Regions from separate parts of the Homo sapiens genome. Here region 2 is linked to region 1. A link means that fine-mapping ties the variant in region 1 to the expression of a gene that starts in the linked region. Tissue or cell type: NK cells. Region 1 holds a variant in brackets; the other region holds the start of a gene. All regions are shown on one strand. Distances are between the middles of the regions.

Region 1 (8,100 bases):
CAGAATCCCTGGCCACAACTGAGGCAGAGGGAACCTGCAGTTTACCAGAGGAATCTGGCAGGTCTGTGATAGGGACAGGACAGTCAGCCTTCACCATGGTGCCCCGGAAGCAGGAGGAAGTGTGGTAATCTAACTCCAGCGACCTGGAGAAGGGCAGGCTGCGGGATGGGGAAGATTTCAGAGCAGAGGGAGTAACGGGCTTGGTGTGATGGACACCGCGCTTCGGAGGAGCAGGGTGGAGAGAAGAAAACCGCCAGATGCTACACTGGGCCGACAGAAAAGAGTAGCTTTGCAAAAACGACGGCAGCGCGCTTTACAGTTTATAGGGAACTCTCACCTAAAGCACTTCAGTGGACCCTCACATAAACCCTGAAAGCGAGAGAATGTTAGCCCCATTTTACAGAAATGGAAACTGAGGATCAATGACTTCATCAAAACCACACAGCTGGAAAGGAGCCGTAAGACCAAGTCTTTGGACGTTAAGTCCCGCGCTTTTCCCTCCTCTCCTCCCTGGCCCTGCAGCCCTCGGGGAGGGAAGACTCGCCTCCTTCTTGAAGAGGGTGAACTTGACAGCGCAGCCGTAGCACCTACTCTCCATGGTGGCTCCCAGCACCGCAGGGTCTGCAGAGCTGAGATCACGCCGGCCAAGTCCTGGGCCCCTTGGACCCTCACCCCAGCTCCGCCCTTCCCTTCCCTGCCCTGCCCCGCCCCACACGCCCACTGGCACTGTCCCGCCGCGACCTAGAGCAGGGAATCCGGACGCTCTCCTGCAGCCAGCGTACGGCAGCGGCGGCAACGGGGGCTGCTGGGAGTCGTAGTTCATTCACGACTGCCGGCCTCCCTCAGAGTCAGTCAAGCCTGACCCAGAACACAATTCCCAGAGGGCTAGGCGCCGCTCGGAGCCTGCAGTCCTCACGCGCGCTTAGACTCTTGGGAGTTGTAGTACGAATCCGTCAGGCCGGAACCATGGCAGTGACCAAGGAGCTCTTACAGATGGACCTGTACGCGCTGCTAGGCATTGAGGAGAAGGCAGCGGACAAAGAGGTGAGAACGGTGGCGAGGAAGGCTGATCTTGAGAGGTCTGGCGGTCCTTCCTGTCCTAGCGCCTCGGCCACTGCTGGCATCCGCTCTCCAGGTTCATTCGGGTCCTGGGCGGGGAGCGAGGGTCGGCGCTATGCCCTCCGCAGGCGGGCTCCCAGACATTTCCTGGACGGTCCGAGGGCCTCAAGAGGAAGCGGGGTACAGAGGGCTCTTCGCGCCGGGTGGCTGTGCTCTCCCCGTGGCCCCTGTCTCCTAGAGGCCGCGGGGCGAGGCAGCAAGGAACGCTAGCCTCCTCTGCGCCTGCGCAGTCTCGGCCTCCGTTTCCGCTTCTGCCTTGACTGTGACAAGAGGTGCCTCATTTCAGTCTCTTCTGCAGGCTGATTTAATTCTTCCACTAAGAGCCTAGAACGAAAGAAAAGTAAGATCTCAAAGCCTCTCCACTCCCTTTTCATGCCCCCTTGCCAATGTGACCGATGACCCTGCTGTCTCTATTTTCTTTTCCACTCAAGCCCATTGACTCTTTTCAAGTAGCTGATGCCCTTCTCAGCATGTGCTAGTTAGTGGGCTAAAAGCAGGAGGATCAGAAGGTTAAGGCAGATGGTATAGAGGTCCATGCTACCTTAGGTGGTGATAAAGATGCCAGGGAGTGAAACACTGATCAAGCTGGATTTAGGATTTCTTTTATCTCCCCCTGGATCATGGTGGTAGTTTTAACAATATACGAAGGAGAGGCGTTCATCAAATGAAAATTAGTGCCCAACTGAGCCGAGATCGCGCCACTGCACTCCATCCTGGGCGACAGAGCAAGACTCTTTCTCAAAAAAAGAAAGAAAGAAAGAAAATTAGTGTCTACTAGGCCGGGCGCGGTGGCTCACGCCTGTAATCTCAGCACTTTGGGAGGCCGAGGCGGGCGGATCATGTGGTCAGAAGTTCGAGACCAGCCTGACCAATATGCTGAAACCCCTTCTCTACTAAAAATACAAAAATTAGCCGGGCGTGGTGGCACACACCTGTAGTCCCAGCTACTTGGGAGGCTGAGGCAGGAGAATCACTGGAACCCGGGAGGCGGAGGTTGCAGTGAGCTGAGATTGCACCACTGCACTCCAGTCTGGGCGACAGAGCGAGACTGTCTCAAAAAAAAAAAAAAAAAAGGAAAAAAAAATAGTGCCCACTAATGTCCCAGTACTTCTGGGCTGCCCTGCTCATGGGGTGAGTGAGCTTTTGAGAAGAGGAAGCTCTGGGGCAGAAAATCAGAGAGACCCAGAGGGCCCTTGAGAAATGCTGTCAACCTGCACAAATCTGTCCCCTGCAGCCGCAGCTGAAATCAGAAATGGCCATGGGATGTCTATGAAGCATCAAAAGCATCTGCTCCACCTCTCTCGTGTTTCAATATTTTAGGATTAATAATTCCTAACATCTGTATAATGCTTACTATGTCCTAGACAGTATTTTTTTTTTCTGGATAGTATTCTAAGTGCTCTATGTTTACAAATTATTATTTTTTAAATTCTTTATTATTATTATTTTTTATTATTGTTTTTGAGACGGAGTCTCGCTCTGTGGCCCAGGCTGGAGTGCAGTGGCGCGATCTCGGCTTACTGCAACCTCCGCCTCTCGGGTTCACGCCATTCTCCTGCCTGAGCCTCTCCAAGTAGCTGGGACTACAGGCGCCTGCCACCATGCCCGGCTAATAATTTTTATTTTTAGTAGAGACGGGGTTTCACCGTGGTCTCGATCTCCTGACCTCGTGATCTGCCCACCTCAGCCTCCCAAAGTGCTGGGATTACAAGCGTGAGCCACCGTGCCCGGCCTATTATTATTTTTTGAGACGGAGTCTCGCTCTGTCGCCCAGGCTGGAGTGCAGTGGCGCAATCTCAGCTTACTGCAACTTCTGCCTCCCAGGTTCAAGCGATTCTCCTGCCTCAGCCTCCGGAGTAGCTGGGACTACAGGCATGTACCACCACGCCCGGCTAATTTTTTTTTTTTTTTTTTTTTTGAGACAGAGTATCACTCTTTGGCCCAGGCTGGAGTGCAGTGGCATGATCTCGGCTCACTGCAACCTCCGCCTTCCTGTTTCAAGTGATTCTCCTGCCTCAGCCTCCCAAGTAGCTGGGATTACAGGCACCCGCCACCACGCCCAGCTAATTTTTGTATTTTTAGTAGAGACGGGGTCTCACCGTGTTGGCCAGGCCAGTCTTGGATTCCTGACCTCGTGATCTTCCCACCTCGGCCTCCCAAAGTGCTGGGATTACAGGTGTGAGCCACTATGCCCTGCCTGCAAATTATTTAATTAGTACTTTATTAATAGTGAGAAACTATTTGAGACATTTCACAAAAGATCCAAGTGGGAAATCTGGAGGGTTTTTTTTTGAGACGGAGTCTCACTCTCTTGCCTAGGCTGGAGTGCAGTGGTGCAACCTTGGCTCACTGCAACCTCTGCCCCCCAGGTTCAGGGAATTCTCCTGCCTCAGCCTCCTGAGCAGCTGGGATTACAGGCATGTGCCACCACACCCAGCTAATTTTTGTGTTTTTATCAGAGACAGGGTTTCACCATGTTGGTCAGGCTGGTCTTGAACTCCTGACCTCAAGTGATCTGCCGGCCTTGGCCTCCCAAAGTGCTGGGATTACAGGCGTGAGCCACCGCGCCCGGCTGAAATCTAGAGTTTCTAACCCTGAAGTTGAGAACTCCTGAGGAAGTCAGTTGGAAGTCATTCTCTATTAATTAGAGAAGTTACATAATCAGATTTTATTTTTTTTTTATTTTTATGTCTATTTTTTGAGAAAAGATCTCACTGTCATTCAGGCTGGAATGCAGTGGCACAATCACAGCTCACTGCAGCCTCGACTTCCTGGGCTCAAGTGATCCCACCTCAGCCTCTCATGTAGTTGGGACTGCAGGTGTGCATCATCATGCCTGGCTAATTTGTTTTGTGTTTGTTTTTGCTTTTTTTTTTTTTCCAGAGACGGGGTCCAGCTATATTGCCCAGGCTGGTGTCGAACTCCTGGGTTCAAGCTATCCTCCTGCCTGGTCTCCCAGAGTGCTGGGATTGCAGGCATGAGCCACTGTGCCCTGCCCATAATTGGATTTTAAAGAAAGTATTTGACTGAGTGTGATGGCTCACACCTGCAATCCCAGCACTTTGGGAGGCCAAGGTGGAAGGAACGCTTGAGGCCAGGAGTTTGAGACCAGCCTGGGAAACGTAGTGAGAGCCTGTCTCTCTCTCTATATATAAAAAAAAAAGCTGGGCAGGGTGTTACGCACCTGTAGTCCCCGCTACATGGGAGGCTGAGGTGGGAGGATCACTTGAGCCTGGGAAGTTTCAGTGAGCTATGATTTTGCCACTGTATTCCAGCCTGGATGACAGGGTGAGACCCTGCCACTCTTAAAAAA[G/A]AAAAGAAAATTCAACACTAGTGTGCATAATGAAAATGGGTGGGGGTGGGAGGAATGGAAGAGCTGCCACTAGGGGGTCAGATGGGGCTGGTGTCTAGGCAAGAGACCAAGGTCTGAGCTGGGCAGTGGTGGCTGGGATCCAGTTCTAACTCAGATGAGATAAGGGATAGGTGTGAAGCCACTCTATAAAGGGTAACAGGTGCTGCTCCTGCCTTTAATGGGGGGGCAAGATTCACGCATACAAGGGAGACATGGTGAGTTCCTTAAGAGGGGTACAAAGTGCTGTGGATGTTCAGTGTAGGCTGAGATTGCTATTAGTTTGAGAGAAGGAATAAAGGCAGGAGAGAAGGTATTTGGGGCCTTGAAGAATGGGCAGAGTTTGGACATGTGGAGATGGAGGCAGGGCATTCCAAGAAAGCAAATGTATATATTAATACATACAGTCTATTTTGGAGCATAAGTAGGTGGCACCCTCAAAGAGGCCTTACCTATTTTTCTTTTCATAGCAGCCATTCTCCTTTCTAGCACTTACTCCCATTTACACTTTGGATACACTGGCTAGCTTCATGGCAACACACTTTTTGGTAGAAAGCAAGAAAAACCTAGGCCCTGGTGTCCCCGCACCATGGTTTAATACCTGTCATAGACAACCTAGGTTGCTGCCATAGGGCAACCTAGAGGACAAACAAATATTTAAAGTGTATACAAGGAAGAACTCCTAAACTGGTTGTCCAAATAGCCTAGGAGTTCTCAATTTGCCCTCTACAGAAAGGCTCCAGGAACTGGGTGAAGGAACCTCTGAAAATCATGCGTGATTTTTTTTTTTTTTGTATTTATTCTGGAGGAGAGGAGGACTTTTTTTTTCTTTTTTTTTTTTTTGACCCAGGGTCTCTCTGTGTTACCCACGCTGGAGTCAGTGGCATGATTACTGCTCACTGCAAACTCTGCCTCCTGGGCTCAAGCAATCCTCCCACCTCAGCCTCAAAAGTAGCTGGGACCACAGGTGTGCACCGCCATGCCTGGCTAATTTTTGTATTTTTGTAGAGATCGGGTTCCACCATGTTGGCCAGGTTGGTCTTGAACTCCTGGGTTCAAGCAGTCCTCCCGCCTTGGCCTCTGAAAAGTGTTTGGGTTATAGGCATGAGCTACCACGCCTGGCCAGAGGAGGGAATTTTAATCCAAAAGTCAAAGAAGCCCTAATGGAGGCCAAGCTCCCTGTGTTACTGATGGCGAAACTGCAGCTCGGAGAAGGTGGTTAGTGGCAGAATTGGGACTAGAACCCTGATGCCCTGATGCCCTGATGCCCTGATGTCCAGCTCAGGCCTCTGCTCCTTCTGCTAAGGCTCCCTGGCCCTGTCCAGCGCGGTTCAGTGGTAGTGATGAGCACCACCACCAAATTTAACTTGTGTTCAGACTACTTCTCTGAATCTCAAATCTGTGTATCTATCTGCCTGTTTGATCCCTCCATGTGGATGTTTCACAGCGGTCTAAATCTTACTACATCCAAAAATTGGCCAGGCGCAGTGGCTCATGTCTGTAATCCCAGCACTTCGAGAGGCCCAGGCAGGCAGATCACCTGAGGTCAGGAGTTTTAGACAGCCTGGCCAACAGGGTGAAATCCTATCTCTACTAAAAATATAAAAACTAGCCAGACGCGGTGGCACGTGCCTGTAGTCCCAGCTACTGGGAGGCTGAGGCAGGAGAATCGCTTGAACCTGGGAGGCGGAGGTTGCAGTGAGCTGAGATCAAGCCACTGCACTCCAGCCTGGGTGACGGAGCTAGAATCTGTCTCGAAAAAAAAAAAAAAAAAAATTGAACTCTTTCAATTCTCTCTCCAAACCTGCTCCTTCCTTGGATTTCCCCATCTTGTGGCACCACCATCCATCCATTCAAGCTAGGAACCTGGAGTCATTCTCAGTACCTCCCTATCCTCTCACCCCTGCCATCTAGAACATCACCGGGTCCTGATGAGTCAGCCTCCCAAATAATCCCCAAACCTGTTCACCCTCTCTGTCTCCACCACTACTGCTCCAGCCCAGGCCCCCATCCACTCAGCTGAATGTTTAGAGGAGCCTGCCAACTTTTTTCTGCTTTCAGCCTATTCCATTCTGATCTATTGAGCCTCTCCAATTCTCCTCACAGAAAATGGAATGATCTTGCTACTCCCTGAAAACCCTATTTAGCACTTCTAATAAAATACTCAATAGAATTTCTTTTCTTTTCTTTTTTTTTTTTTTTTTTTTGAGACGGAGTCTCGCTCTGTCACCCAGGCTGGAGTGCAGTGGCTGCAAGCTCCGCCTCCCAGGTTCACGCCATTCTCCCGTCTCAGCCTCCTGAGTAGCTGGGACTACAGGCGCCCGCCACCACGCCCGGCTAATTTTTTGTATTTTTAGTAGAGACGGGGTTTCACCATTCACAGGATGGTCTTGATCTCCTGACCTCGTGATCCGCCCACCTCGGCCTCCCAAAGTGCTGGGATTGCAGGCGTGAGCCACCGCACCCAGCCAATACTCAACAATTTCTTAGCTCATTCATACATTTTCCTCTGCCAGGAATGCTCTTCCTCCCCTTCTGCTAATCTGGGTTGCTTTTACTTGTCCTTCAGAACTCAGTCGAAATGGCATCCTCAGAGAAGCCTTGCCTTATATTCTATTTCATGGCAGCTGGTTTTTCTTTTTTCTAGCACTTATTTCAGTTTGCAATTATGTATTTATCTGTGTGATTATTTGTCTCATGCCTTAATCCCCTCTGCACTCCTACTTCTGAGGACCAGATCTGATTCATGCTCTTCTGTAGCAGCCCCTTACCTGGTGACTGGCACATAGTAGGTTCTCAATAAGTATTTGTTGAATGAATGAAGTAGTAGCTAAAGAGACCACTGCAACGACTTTACTTGAGAATCAGGAGACCAAGGGCAGTCACTGCGTCTCTCAGGACCTGACTTTCCCCAAATGTAAAATGAAGGAGTAGGGCAAACTACAGTTTGAGGGGCCAAATGGCCCATGACCTTTTTTTTTTTTTTTTTGAGACGGAGTCTCGCTGTCGCCCAGGCTGGAGCATGGTGGCGCAATCTCGGCTCACTATAACCTCTGCCTCCCAGGTTCAAGCAATTCTCTGCTTCAGTCTCCGGAGTAGCCGAGATTACAGGCTCCTGCCACCACGCCTGGCTAATTTTTATATTTTTAGTGGAGATGTGGTTTCACTCTCTTGGCCTGGCTGGTCTTGAACTCCTGACCAAAGTGCTGGGATTACAGGCGTGAGCCACCGTGCCCAGCTGACCTTTTTTTTTTTTAATGGCTTATGTGCTAAGAATGGGTTTTACATGTTTAAATGATTGTAGAAAAAAAAACACAGCTCAACAACCAAAAAAACAACTCGGTTAAAAAATGGGCAAGCCAGGAGTTTGAAGTTACAGTGAGCTCTGATCACGCCACCATGCTCCAGCCTGGGTGACAGAGTGAAACTCTGTCTGTAAAAAAATTAAAAAAAAAAAAAGAAAAAGACAATCTCAATAGACATTTCCCCAAAGATGATGTACAAATGGTCAATAAACACATGAAAAGATGCTCAACTTCACTAGTCATTAGGTAAATGCAGATCAAAACCATGTTGAGGCCAGGTGCGGTGGCACACGCCTGTAATCCCAGCACTTTGGGAGGCCGAGGCAG
Region 2 (8,100 bases), 40 kb after region 1:
TGACCCCTCCCTGTCCCTGCCCTGTCCGACAGGGCTCAGTGCTGTCAGAGAGGGACTACGAGAGCCTCGTCATGATGCGCATGCGCCAGGCGGCCGAGCGGCAACAGCTGATCGCACGGATGCAGCAGGAAGACCAGGAGGGGCCGCCTACGTAGCCCCAGCTCCAGCCATCCACCCCTCAGCCCTTTTCTTCAACGTCACCAATAAATTTTTTTTTTTTTTAAGATTTTACCTCTATCCCATACATAGGTATAAGGTGCTGGGCTCTGCCGCAGAGCGCTCCACCCAGGCCTGGCGCCCCTCCCAGGAAGTGGGCAGACCCCCAGGGAAACGCTCCGCAGGGTGAGAGTCCCAGAGTCCGTGCACAAGCAGAGCACAGGCGCAGCCACTCATCACAGCCCTTTATTGGCTTGGGCTAGCTATGCAGGAGCCACGCGCCAGGGCCGCTGGAGTGCCCAGCTCCGGCCCGGGGCAGCTGCCCGAGGAACATGGCCTACACAAGGCCCTCGGCCCAGGCCCGAAGCAGGAGGGCAGCTGGGAGCACCAGGGCACCGGGCACTGCCCTCTCCCACTGCTTGACGCAGGGTTTCAGAGAAGGCCATTCACTGCCCTTTGGGGCTGGGCCCATGGCGGTGATGATTTGGGAAGAGAGGAGCAAGGCAGACGGTGAGGCAGGAGCTTGGAGGTCAGGGCCCACAGCAGCCCCTCCACAGGGGTGCCCCGTCTGCAAATCAGCATGAGAAGGTCACTCCTTGTGCAGACACCACACCAGCGTCTGGCCCACCCCCGTCATGCTCAGCACACGGAAGCCCCTGCGTTCCAGCTTGTCCAGGACTATGCGGGGAGGGTCATCGACGTAGTATTCATAACTGCAAAGAGACAGGATGGGGGGGGTGAGGAGGGGCACACAGCAAGCTCCTGGTACAAAGCTAGTGTCTGCAGCAGGCAGCCTGGCCACTCTTGTAGTGACTCACACTTGCTGGCTGCTTGCTGGGCGCTGGGGTAAGTGCACGCCCCCTGCCTCCTCCCCTTCTAGGTACTTCACGAGCTATCTCATTTATTCTTCCCAACAAGCTAGTGAAGGTGCCACTGTTGTGGCCATTGATAGATGAGAAAACAGAGGGGTTAATCAGGTTCCCCAGCGTCCCAGATGGTAGACCATGTTAGTCTGACCACAGCCCTGCTGCCGCCCTCCCTGGGCTTGCTCCCCACCCAGGCTTCCAGGTAGGAGGAGGCTGAGGCTGCAGTGAGCCATGATTGCACCACCGCACTCCAGCCTGGGCGACAGAGACTCCATTTCAAAAAAAAATAAGCCTCCAGGCCCCTCACTGCCCTGGCTGTCCTGCAGTTCTGTAGCAACAAGGCTGAGCCCCAGTAGCTCCTGGCTCTGTGCGCCACTCCCTAGCATGGAGAGTGCTGGTAGTCCTTCTGTCAGGTTTAATTGATGCTGAAAGACCATGAAGCAGACAAAGGGCTCAAGCCCCAAGCTGGGCATGGAGAGGCAAGTGCCTCATGGCAAAGGGAGGGGGCTGGCTTCTGTCCCCGAGCCTTGACCCAGGGGCTGGGATCAGCCCTCCTCTTTCCCCGATTTGAACTGGCACTCACTCTGACAACTCTTTTCAGAGAGCCTGTGTAGCTTGGGTTCTCCCTGCCTCCAGGGGTGAGAGGAGGAATGGAAGCAGTAGTCACAGTTTAGACATGGAGGCATTAGGAAGAATGCCAAGGGAAATGGCTAGGTCCCCAGGCAGCAGCCACCCTGGAGGTAGGACGCAGGCTCCCTGCTCCCTGCTTCTAGGGCTTAGCTTTGCGACTCATGCAGATCCTCACGACAAAAACCTTTCTCTCTGTGCCTGTCTGTCCTTGATGGGGTCCAGCTTAGGAGAGGGCAGGGCAAGGAACAGTCTGCTAGTGGAGTCCTAGACCCAGGGAACGGACTCTGTTTCTGCGGTTCCAGTAAGGATGTGGAAAGCTTTCAGAGCAAGCCTCGTGGGGGAGAGGGGGGATGTTGGAGAGGCTACAGATGGGACCAACTCCTCCGGAGAACAGAGCCCCAGGATGCAGGCAGGGGGCTCTGATGCTGGGCCCTGTCCCTGGGCTTGGAGGTTGTATAAAGGGAGCAGAGGCAGGTCTAGGGGCTGGCAGGGAGAGGATACTGAGGGAGGCTGCTACTTACAAGTTGTTTCCCAAGGCTCTTCTCTTTGAAGCCCCCAGATGCTGCATCAGCTCTGGATCCGACTGTTCATCGCCCACCATAGTGGGGCCCACCTCCTGCAAGGTAAGCCACAGTGGCTGCTTGGCTGGCTGCCAGGAGGAGGTGGAAGGTCTTGCCTGTCCTTCCTCCCCTGCCTGCTAGCCCTGAGTAAGGTTCAGGTAAAGGCTACAGAGAGTAGCAAGGATTCTTAGGGGCTGAGCACAAGCTGTGAAGGGGTGGAGCCCATCAATGATCAGGAGGAGCAATGTAGGCGCCCTCCCTAGTGCCTTAAAGCTCAGCTTTAGCCAGGCAAAGTATCACGAGCCTATAGTTCCAGCTACTGAGGCTGAGGTGGGAGGATCGCTTGAGGTGGGAGGAGTTTGAGGCTGCAGTGAGCCATGATTGCACCACTGCACTCCAGCCTGGGTGACAGAGTGAGACTCCATTTCAAAAAAACAAAACAAAATAAACATGTAAATGAAAGAAGCCAGACTCAGATCACATTACCACAGAAAGGTAATTAGTGGTTATCTAGGGCTGAGGGACTTGGGGGAAATCAAGAGTGTCTGCCAGTGGGTACAGGGTTTCCTTTTGGGGTATTAGAAATGTTCTAAAACTGATTATGGTGATGGTTGCACAACTCTGAGTACACTAAAGAAACAACAACACTGAATTGTACACTTTAAATCAAAGAATTTATGGTATGCACATTACATATCAATAAAGCCATATCTTTTAAGAAATAAGAATCACTTTGGGGGGCCATTTCCAAGTATGGGTTCCCAAGCCCCAGACAGAGTTTTAGGAGGTCTGGGAAGGGACCCAGGAATCCACATTTTGGCAGCTGAGCAGATGGCTGCTTCACAAACCGCTGCCCAGGGCTCTGCAAGAGCTCTCTGTTGCGTGGTGAACCCACCAAGGGGGTTGTGTACCCTTTGCTGGTTCACCCCAGCACTGGGCAGTGAGCAAGGGCAGAGAGCACCTTGCTGCCCGTCATGTCTTTCTGAAGCTAAAAGGGGACTCCTGAGGGGCAATCAGAACCTTTTTACAGATAAGGAAACTGCGCCCAGAGAAAGGAACGTGACTTCTAACTCATGGTGTTCCCACCTCTAACTGCACAGCCCCTTCTCGCCTTCCTTTTTTCCAAGCAGGGTGTTCTTTCTTTTCTTCCTTCCCTAAAGCTTCAGGGATAGCCCTTCCTGGAAGTGCCTAAGGGTGCAGCTAGTTGCTGTTTATGGGTCAAGGACTTGGCACCGGGGTTTTAGCGCCTTGGCAGGTCCTTATCTTTTCCAAACCTCTTTCTCTCAGGTTATTCGCCCTTTTTTCCCCTGCGGAGCGGCTCTGTGCAGGGCACTAGGTGCTGCGCGTGAGGCCAGGGCTCCCTGGGTCTCTCCCGCCGACAGGTAGGACAGGAGCCGGAAGCGCCCGGAGGTCGCCCTGTTGCCGGGACGCACGTACCCGGGCCCCTTCGCGGCAATAAAGGCTTCAGGCCGGCCAGAGCTCGCTGAGTCCCGGAAGCCGAGCTGAGCCCGCTTCTCCACTCCCTCTCCCCGGCCAAGGGGGCGTGTCTGGGCGGGTTCCCGGTCCAGTCCCCGGTGGGTGCAGCCCAGGAGGGAGGCATGAAGGTGCAGTCGCAGCCCCCTAGGGCCTGGTCCCGGCTCCAAGTCGCCAGGCGGCCGGTACTCACCATGCGGATCTGGGTGCTGATGAGCAGGTAGGGCATGGTGCACGCGTCCCGGCCTGGCTCCCACCGGGGGCTCTAGGCTGGACGCCGACTCCAGCCCTTCTCGCGTCGGGACTGCGACGCGCAGCTGGGAGTCCCGTTACTCCGGCTCTGGCCACAGGCGGCGTCAATCCCGGGGCACCTTGCCCGTGACCGCCGTGGCCGCCAATCAGGAGCGGCTGCCGTGACGCGCCCTGCAGTCGGCGGTTCGGGGCCCGCCCCCGCCCTCCCGGCGGCGGACTTGGACCCCGGGGCCCACCTGAGGCTTCCGCCGAGTGATCCAGTTGCGGGAAGGTGGAGTGCGGGGAGGAGGGGGCGGTCCCACGACCTGGAAGGACACTATCCTGAAGCTCCAGCGTCCTCCAGGACGCTTAGTGCTGTTTTCTTTGCAGCCTGTGATCTTACTGCGTCCCCGCGCGCGTGTTGCCCCCGCGCCCGCTTCTTGAACACTTCAGGCCAGGTTCCAAAGTCCCCTGCCAGGCAGAGCCCAGAGCAAACGGCGTCCTCACGGAGGCCTCTCCAGGCCCCAGCCCACCCCTCTCAGAGACGCCTCGACAGCTTCAACGGGGCCCCACTTCCCCTCGCCAAGACATGCGCTCCAGAGATTCCTTAAGCGCTGAGGAGGCCGGGGCACGAGGCTCGGAGCTAGCCCTGAAGGCGACAACTAAAATACCACCCAGGGCGCACTGTGCATTCCCCCTCCCAGACTCTAATTCCAGCACAGAGGCGGATCCTTGCATTTCTGTGGACCCGCAGGAAAGTCTGTAAAGGAACCGCGCGCTTGGCTGGGTGCCAGGTCTGGAGTGACTGAATGGATGGAACCTGGCCTTCCCTCCCCTGAGCTTCCCGCGCAGCTGGACAGACGCGGCGCACGCGCAGGAGGTCACTGGGCAACACCTGGGGCAAATGAAACAACTTCCCCCGCACCAGCCACCAATGAGCGGCTGCGAGTTCCCAACCGTGTGTCCACGCCCCTCATCCGCAGTTATCAAAATCTGACAACTCATCCTTCTTTATCTGCCTTGTTGTGATTGGTTTTCTTTTTTCTTTTCTTTTTTTTTTTTTTTTTTGGACATGGAGTTTCGCTCTTATTGTCCAGGCCGGAGCGCAATGGCGCGATCTCCGCTCACCGCAATCTCCGCCTCCCAGGTTCAAGCGATTATCCTGCCTCAGCCTCCTGAGTAGCTGGGATTACAGGCCTGCGCCACGACGCCCGGCTAATTTTGTATTTTTAGTAGAGACGGCGTTTCTCCATTTTGGTCAGGCTGGTGGCGAACTCCCGACCTCAGGTGATCCACCCGCCTTGGCCTCCCAAAGAGCTGGGATTACAGGCGTGAGCCACCGCATCCGGCCTGTGATTGGTTTTCTAGAAAATAAAGCAAAACAAAAACAGCCTGTAGGTAGCCTTCCCTCCCATGGGAGGGTAATAATCTTCACTTTTTAAGAGGGGCCTTTATAGGGGATGCTGCCGTTCCAACACTTTGACAGACGTGGAGAGAGCTATAAGGGAAGCAGGAAGTTGTAATCCTAAACGTTCCTTAACTGGTCTAATTTATTATTCTGTAGTTCCTACCCCTGCCCTCTTACCCACTGACCTAACAAGTTAGCCAGAGAGATAAAACACATTCATGCTTAACAAAGGATGTGTTAAAACTGACGAAAGGGCCGGGCGCGGTGGCTCACGCTGCTAATCCCAGAACTTTGGGAGGCCGAGGCGGGCGGATCACGAGGTCAGGAAATCGAGACCATCCTGGCTTAACACAGTGAAACCCCGTCTCTACTAAAAGTACAAAAAATTAGCCGGGCGTGGTGGGGGCCGCCTGTAGTTCCAGCTACTCGGGAGGCTGAGGCAGGAGAATGGCGTGAACCTGGGAGGCGGAGCTTGCAGTGAGCCGAGATTGGTTGGGCCACTGCACTCCAGCCTGGGGCAGAGCAATACTTCGTCTCAAAAAAAAAAAAAAAAAAAAAAACTAACAAAAGATTGATGCCCAGGAGCTCCTACAACTCAGTGAGAAAAAGATGAACAATGGAAAAAACAGGGGTAACTGACTTGAATAGGCCCTTCACAAAAGAGGAAATAGAAATGACCAATAAACATATAACATGATGCCTAGTATATCATTAGAAATACAGGAAATACAAATTAAAGTCAATTTTACTTTTTTTCATTTTAACCAAATTTATTTAAACCCCAAGACTTTGTAGACACAGTGGCTCACGCCTGTAATCTAAGCACTTTGGGAGGCCAAGGTGGGAGGATCGCTTGAGCCCAGAAGGTTGAGGCTGCAGTGAGCCATGATTTGGTTTATTTTTAAGTAATTTATCCCTACTTAAAGACAGATTACCCTACATGTGAAAGCTATGTACAAAAATCATCCACTGATTAGAAGGATTTTTTTAAGTTATACAATTGTCCTTGGTTTTTACAATGATAAATGAAAAACATTAAAATTCTTCAGTTGAATAAAGTATGGAAGGATTTTTATGTTGTCATTTTTTAGTTAAAACAGAGCAAAATATAACTCACTGGAATATAGAGACAAGAGCTGAGCCGGGCACGGTGGCTCATGCCTGTAATCCCAGCACTTTGGGAGGCCGAGGTGGGTGGATCACTTGAGTTCAGGAGTTCGAGACCAGCTTGGCTAACATGGTGAAACCCTGTCCTACTGAAAATACAAAAATTAGCTGGGCGTGGTGGCACACACCTGTAGTCCCAGCTACTCGGGAGGCTGAGGCAGGAGAATCGCTTGAACCAAGGAGGCAGAGGTTGCAGTGAGCTGAGATCATGCCACTGCACTTCAGCCTGGGTGACTGAGTGAGACTCTGTCTCAAAAAAAAAAAAAAGTCAGATGTGGTAGCACATGCCTGTAGTCCCGCTTGAACCTGGCAGGCGGAGGCTGCAGTGGGCCAAGATTACACCACTGCACTCCAGCCTGGGCAACAGAGCAAGACTTCATCTAAAATAAATATATGAAAAAAAGATAAGAGCTGAATGAGCATGCCAAGAATGGAGAAAGGGGGTATTTTCACAGAAGCAGTATTTTTCCCAGTCCCATCTCCACCTGATGTCAATCAGAACACACCATTGGCCATTTTACAAAAAAACAAACAAAAACACAAATGCAATACGCTGGTGCACACATACCCATTACTGTATGTACAGCAAAGGAAAGGGGAAGGTGAAAATGAAATAAAACTATACTATATTGGTCGGGATGTAGTGGAACCAAATTGCAGTTTTCTAATTGAGGATGTAATCTTGGTCTGTAAGAACAGAGGTTTGGAGTAAAGTAGTAGGTTCCTTTTTTAGTAGACACCTGTCTCCTGCAGGAAAACGTCAATTGTGTATTCATCCTCCATTACCAACTGTGCAGGTATGTCTGTTTCATTGATTGACTGCCCATCAAATCCGAATCTGATCTGCCTCATTGACAAATCCTGTTATTCACAATAGGCTCTCATCAGTTTACTAGGCAGTGTATGCCTCTTAAACTGCGCCACAGAACTATCCTGCCACACCACCTTCAAACAAATATGATCGTTGTTCTCAGTCTTAACTTCTTCCTTGAGCTTCCATGGCCATGGCAAGCACCAGAATCTCTGCAGCTGCTGCTTCACAAAGCAGGTACTGTTACCGCCCTCAAGGGAGGGTCGCTTGACCCGTCCAGTGCAGTTCTTACCAATAAAATGAAACCAGGTTCAGTAAAGCAGAGCAGAAACGTTCATTGGTCAAGAATGGAAAAGGGGAGCTTCTGCTCAAAGCACCTGCTCCCTGGACATTGGGTAAAGGGGGATCTTAAGGGTTTTTTGGGCAGATAGGTGAAGACTGGGGTAGGGATTCCTGGATGGGTTCTTCCAGGAGCAGCTGGAGTGTGTAGATTCTTTTTGCACCTGGCACTGTTTGTGCTTAGCAAGGTACATTTCTCCGCACTGAGTGGAGATTTTAGTATAGCAGTGAAGCAGTAACTCAGGTCAAGGCAGCACTGCTGAGTTCAGTTCATCTTGTGGCTGGTTCCTGGTTATTGGCACCTGGCCTTTGTTTCTGTAAGCAAGCGCAGCTGGGAGGATGGTTAATTTCACAGGTTTTGGGACTTCCTGAAAGAACTGAGGGCCAGCGCAGTGGCCCCCGCCTGTAGTCCCAGCACTTTGGGAGTCCAAGACATGCATATCACCTGAGGCTGGGAGT

What was found. PIP is the estimated chance that this variant, and not a neighbour inherited with it, causes the effect.
Region 2: it holds the start of GCHFR, and the variant in region 1 is fine-mapped to the expression of GCHFR in NK cells (Gilchrist 2021, PIP 0.95). The same link has a PIP of 0.9 or more in whole blood.

The regions. Positions count from the first base shown.
Region 1 is chr15:40,800,313-40,808,412 of GRCh38, reverse strand. DNAJC17 (DnaJ heat shock protein family (Hsp40) member C17) reads left to right here and starts at 940. Exons shown (of 11, transcript NM_018163.3): 1 at 940-1,044. The coding sequence starts at 967. It overlaps ZFYVE19 (zinc finger FYVE-type containing 19), which reads right to left and starts at 1,324. Exons shown (of 11, transcript NM_001077268.2): 1 at 545-1,324. The coding sequence starts at 823. RefSeq lists enhancers at 292-341, 972-1,021, 1,062-1,111, 1,572-1,661. The variant G/A (reference allele first, on the strand shown) is at 4,433.
Region 2 is chr15:40,759,995-40,768,094 of GRCh38, reverse strand. GCHFR (GTP cyclohydrolase I feedback regulator) reads right to left here and starts at 4,027. Exons shown (of 3, transcript NM_005258.3): 1 at 3,879-4,027; 2 at 2,174-2,268; 3 at 387-869. The coding sequence starts at 3,914. The coding sequence ends at 746. It overlaps DNAJC17 (DnaJ heat shock protein family (Hsp40) member C17), which reads left to right. Exons shown (of 11, transcript NM_018163.3): 11 at 33-2,934. The coding sequence ends at 155. LOC124903474 (a long non-coding RNA gene) reads left to right here and starts at 6,827. Exons shown (of 2, transcript XR_007064599.1): 1 at 6,827-7,288; 2 at 7,369-7,621. It also overlaps the pseudogene SUMO2P15. RefSeq lists enhancers at 1,915-2,704, 3,482-4,347 and a silencer at 4,014-4,463.